Linked DNA regions of Homo sapiens: region 1 is linked to region 2. The links come from fine-mapping of genetic effects on gene expression. A gene starts in region 2. The other region holds a variant in brackets. All regions are shown on one strand. Distances are between the middles of the regions. Region 1 has its middle 22 kb from the start of PPIA. Region 2 holds the start of ZMIZ2 (zinc finger MIZ-type containing 2).

Evidence for each region.
Region 1: its variant is fine-mapped to the expression of ZMIZ2 in whole blood (INTERVAL, PIP 0.91).

What each region holds. Positions count from the first base shown.
Region 1 is chr7:44,772,876-44,775,784 of GRCh38, forward strand. No RefSeq gene overlaps it. Among named protein-coding and RNA genes, the nearest start is that of PPIA, 22 kb to the right of the region's middle. The variant G/A (reference allele first, on the strand shown) is at 1,698.
Region 2 is chr7:44,747,702-44,750,610 of GRCh38, forward strand. It overlaps ZMIZ2 (zinc finger MIZ-type containing 2), which reads left to right and starts at 1,146. Exons shown (of 19, transcript NM_031449.4): 1 at 1,146-1,290. RefSeq lists silencers at 641-1,170, 1,281-1,390, 1,401-1,450.

The DNA of each region.
Region 1 (2,909 bases), 25 kb after region 2:
GGGGGGGTGTCACTCTGTCAGGTGGAGTGCAGTGGTGCAATCACAGCTCACTGCAGCGTTGACCTCCAGGGCATAAGCACTCCTCTCATCTCAGCCTCCCAGGTGGCTGGGGCCACAGGCTTACACCACCACGCCTGGCTAATTTTTTTTTTTTAAGCAGAGTCTCACTCTGTCCTCCAGGTGGGAGTGCAGTGACGCGATCTCGGCTCACTGCAACCTTCGCCTCCTGGATTCAAGCGAATCAGCCTCCTGAGTACTGGGATTACAGTACTCGGCCTCCTGAGTACTGGGATTACAGTACTCGGCCTCCTGAGTACTGGGATTACAGGCGTGTGCCACCAAGCCCTGCTAATTTTTGTATTTTTAGTAGGGATGGGGTTTCACCATGTTGGCCAGGCTGGTTATGAACTCCTGACCTCAAGTGATCCGCCCGCCAAGGCCTCCCAAAGTGCTGGGATTACAGGAGTGAGCCACCGCACCTGGCCCCGGCCCCAACTCTTTATTTTAATAAAGTTAAAAAGTAATGCAATGGCAAGTGCAGTGGCTCACACCTGTAATCCGAGCACTTTGTGAAGTCAAGGCAGGAGGATCGCCAAAATCCAGAAGTTCAAGACCAGCTTGGACAACAAAGTGAGACCCTGTGTCTACAAAAAATTTTTTTAATTAACCAGGTGTGGTGGAGCACACCTGTGTAGTCCCAGCTACTTGGGAGGCTGAGAAGGGAGCGTCACTTGAGCCCAGGAGTTTGAGGCTGCAGGGAGCTATCTTGGTGCCACTACACTCTAGCCTGGGTGATAGAGCAAGACCCTGTCTCTGAAAAACAACAAAAATAAAAATAAATTTAAAAGAATAGTGCAGTGAGCACCCACATAACCTAGAGATTCACCAATTGTTAACATCTTGCCATGTTCGTTTACATGCTCTCTCTTTCTCCATGTATCTATTTTTTTTATGCACACACTTTTTTTTGTTGCCAACTTTGGAAAGTAAGTTGCAGACAAAATAAATACTTCATCTCTAAATACTTCGGTATGTATGTTGGAAAAAAATTTAAGTTTTATTTTTCCTTTGCTCTGTCACCAAGGCTGGGGTGCAGTGGTGCAATCACAGCTCATTGAAGCCTCCACCTCAATCCTCCTACCTCAGCCTACCAAGTAGCTGGGACTACAGGCACACACCCCAACACCTGGCTATTTTTTTTTTTTTTTTTGTAAAGACAGAGTTTCACCCTGCTGCCCAGGCTGGTCTCGAACTTCTGGGTTCAAGCAATCTGCCCACCTCAGCCTCCCAAAGTGCTGGGATCACAGACATGTACCACCACATCCAGCCAGGAAGTTTTCATTTATAACCACATTACCATTGTCACAGCTAAGAAAATTAACAATACTATCATCCCTTGGTATCCATGGAGGATTAGTTCCAGGACCTCCTGTGGATACCAAAATACACGAATGCTCAAGTCCTGTATATAAAGTGCCATAGTATTTCCATATCTTTCTCTATGCCTTATTTACATTTTTTTCTTTTATTTTCTTAATTGATATAAACAAGTACACTTTTATAGGGTGCATAGTGATGTTTTGATACATATAATGTATAGTGATGAGATCAGGGTAATTAGCATATTTATCTGGAACATTTATCATTTCTTTTTGTTGGGAACATTCAATATTCTCTTTCTAGCTATTTGAAATGAT[G/A]TAATACAGTCATCCTAAAATGCTATAGACCACTAGAACTTAGCCCACTTATCTAGCTGTAATTTTATATCCTTTAACAAATCTCTGTCTACCCACTTCCTCCTACCCTTTCTACCCCTGCTGTATGCTTTAAATCATCTCTAGGCCAGGCGCAGCAGCTCACGCCTGTAATCCCAGGACTTTGGGAGGCCAAGGCAGGCAGATTGCTTGAGCTCAGGAGTTCAAGACCAGTGTAGGCAACATGGTGAAACCTCGTCTCTACAAAAAATACAAAAATTAGCCAGGTGTGGTGGTGTGTACCTGTAGTCCCAGCTACCCAGGAGGCTGAGGTAGGAGGATCACTTGAGCCCCAGAGGTGGAAGTTGTAGTGAGCTGAGATTGCCCCACTGCACACTCCAGCCTGGGTGACAGAGTGAGTCCTTGTCTCAAAAAAAAAAAAGTAAAATTTTAAAAAACATTAAAATTAAAATAATATCTAGATTACTTATAATACCTAAGACAATGTACATAGTTGTTATACTATATTGTTTTCATCTGTATCATCTTTATTGTTGTATTATTTTTATTTTCCCCCAAAATATTTTTGATCTGAAGTTGGTTGAATCTGTGGATGCAGAATCGGTGGATACGGAGAGTAATGCCATGGCATCATTTATTATATTCGCATGTTCCAGTTATAACTTTTTTCAACAGAATCCGATCAACACTCACATTTTGCACCTGGCTTTTGTGTCTCTTTAGTCTCTTTTAATCTAAAACAGTCTTTTTTTCATTACATTGATCTTTTCGCACAATTCAGGAGTTTCTTGTAGAATGTCCCCTATGCGTTCCCTCCTGGTGTCATTTACTCTTTCCTTTATTACCGTATTTCCTGTTACTTGAAAGATAAGGCTGGAGCCTGATTAAACATTTTTGGCCTGAGGAGACTTTCATTTTTCACCTGGTTTCCTGGCTAGACTGTAAGCTCCATGAGGGCAGTGTCATCCTGATATGCTCCAGTGCTGGCAATATTTGTCAAAGAAATTAACCCTGGAACAAAGGGAGCAAACACACCTCCTGCTTGTCTTGTCTGGGTGTTATCATGTCCACTCAGCCTGTGAATGTCCTGGCTAAGGAAGTGCACCCTGCAGGGTGAAGTGGGACATGGAGGTATCCAGTGAACATGTGCTGGTTTGGTTAAGGAAGTGCCTGCCAGTCTACTGTGATAGGATT
Region 2 (2,909 bases):
GAGGACACTGTGCTAACTAAAGTAAGACTGTCACAAAAAGACATATAATGTATGATTCCACTTATACGATGTCCTTAGAGTAGTCTAATTTAGAGACGAATAGTGAATGCCAAAGGCTAGGAGGAGGAAAGAATGGGGAGCTAGTGTTTACTGGGTATGGAGTTTCCATTTGAGAAGATGAAAAAGTCCTGGAGACGGTTGGTGGTTGCACAAGAATGTGAATGTACTTGGTGCCACAGAACTACACTTGGAAACAGTTAAGATGGTAAGTTTTACGTTATGTGTATTTTACCACAATTAAGAAAAATTAATTATGGGTAGTTGAGAGAATGTGGTCTTCCTCAACTTACGGTAGGAAAAGTCAAGAATAACTTAAAGGCTGATAATAGCATTTCAAAGATCGAAACTGATCAGAGAGGCTATTCCATCAGGCTAGACTAGCTCAATAGTGACTTTTTCCAGAAGGAGAACCACTGGGAAGAGAGAACTGAGCAGTGAGGACAGCGAACTTGTTAAGTTTAGTTTTCTGCTTTAACGAGGGGCTTCCGGAGTCCTTTAATAAGATCCCCTCCCAAAAGTGGCACCCTGGGTCTCTCTGTCTCCCAGTCGTGTCCCCGCCCGCCGGGCCAGAGCAATGGACTCCCAGGAAGCAGGGGGGGCGCGGGCGGGGCGCGGGCGGGGCGGGTGGGGGAAGGGCAAGGACTCACTCTTCCTTTCCTCCTCCGCCGGGGCCCGCCCCGAGCCCTGGCCCCACCCCGGCTCTCTGGATCCGCCTCCTCCTCCCGACCCCGCCCCGGCACCTTGGCCCCGCCTTCCACTCGGCCCCGCCCCGGCGTCCTGGCCCCGCCTCCGCCGCCCGGCCCCGCCCCGCTCCCGGCGGACTGCGAGCAGGAAGAGCGCAGTGGCTCTGCCGACGCCGCGTTCAGAAAGGTGTGGAGGGGGCTGGGGGCGCAGGTCGCGATCAGGCTGCGTCTCCTGCCCGCCCAGCCACCTGCGGCCCTGGCCCCACCCTGCCGCTTTGGGCCGCTCGGGCTCGCGGCCGCCCCCGCCCCGAGCGCCGGCTCGGGGCTCTGCTGCTCTGGCCTGGGAGGCGGGGCCGGCTGCGCGGCGTCATGCATATGCATGAGCGGCGCGGCGGCGGCTCCATTGTGCCCTCGGAGCGGGCGGCGGCGCGATGGCGCGGGTGGCGGCGGCCCCGGGGCGGCGGGCGGCGCGGAGGGCGGGCTGAGCGCATGGAGCGGCGCGGGCCGGGGGCCGCCACGGCGAGGGGCCGGGCCAGGCCGGGCGGAGGTGAGCGGGGTCCTGGGGGTGGCCCCTGGCAACGCCGCCAGCAGGCAGGTGTGGGCCGGCGGGGGCAGGCAGGTGCGGCAGGTGCGGGCCGGCAGGTGCGGGCGGGCAGGCAGGTGTAGCTGGTCGCCCGGGGCGCCCCGGTTCCGCTGCGGCGCCACGGTAGGGTTCACAGCTGGGCTGGGGCTAGAGGCTCTGCCGCCCACCTGCCGGCACCTGCCACGCGTGCGTCGTGGTCTTGGGCAGGCTCGGCCCCGTGGGCGTCAGGGTCATCCAGCCCTCCCCTGAGTCTTTGTTGGAGGCTGGCCGAGGGGTGTAAGCGGCGCTCGGGGTTCTCCTGAGCGATGAAGGCTGGCCGGGCCTTCGCTCCAACCTGATCGTTCCTAGCTTTGGGGCCAGGCAGTCTCACCTACATGGTACGCCCCTCCGCTCCTACTTACGTGCCCACCAGCACGGCGATGTGGGGGCCGTCTGAGGCCGTCACCTGCTCGCGGAGGAGCTGTTCCGCTCCTGGGCTGAACGACGCTGAGCGGCCAGCCCCCAGCTGCCAGTTTTGATGGGGACACCCCTTTCCAAACTGGACATACTGAAGCTCAGGCGTGAGGATGCCCTGCTCCCCTGAGGTGCCTTGTCTTCCCTAGTGCCAGGTGTCCTTCACCGCGGCACCCCCACCCGGTGCCTTGTTTACCCCTCCACCTACCGTGTCTCTCCTCCCATTCCCTGGACCCTCTGCCCTGCAGTGTTCTGCCTCTCCTTCTCCCTAGGGTACCCTCTTTCCAGTATTACAGAACATCCATGGTGGTGTCTTTAATTTGTGTCATCGCAGATTTCACAGGGACACACACGGAACATGTGACTTGGTCTGAGACCGTGGTGATTACGGATAGGATGGACACAGACTCACCACCAAGTTCTGGCAAGCTAGAACCAGAGGGCATCCCTTGATGCTTAGTGTGGAAACAGGAGAAGTGAAGGAATCTTAACTTCCAGAGGTACTGACCTCTAGCCCTTGTCATGCCCAGGGGATAGTTACAAGCTGGAAGTGTAAATGAAGAGAACAAGCAGGTGACAGTTGCCGGTTGTAGATTTCTGAAGGACAGGCCTAAGATGTTTGGGGAGCATCCTGATTATTGGGATTGAGCTCCCAAGGGCTGATGACATGAAGGTGGTCATGTGTCCTCAGTCCTAGGATGCTACCAGATATCCATCTTACACATTGTAAACTGATGCCAGGTTAAGGTTGTCCCTTCAGCTGTTCACTGAAATGTCTCATGCCTGGGCCATTGCTTATTCCTGGACTTTTTGATGAACTCTGCATCCTGACTTAGCCCCACGCTTAGACATTTTAGTACTGTGGCCTTACAGGTAGAGGGGGCAGGACTTTCAGCTACCTGTATATGTGAGTACCCCACTTTTTGCTACCAAGGACCCCGCTCCTGCAACATTCCACAGCCATCATTTCTTCAATACCCTTTGACTCCATTGTCACCTGGGTTGGATCCTGACCCTGCAATCTTGGAGACAGTGAGTCCTGATGTGTGACCTATTGAGAAGCGTTGCCTGCCACAGGGCCCACTTGCTGGTCCTGCTCCTAGCTGACTAGGCAGGCAGAGAGGTGGCAT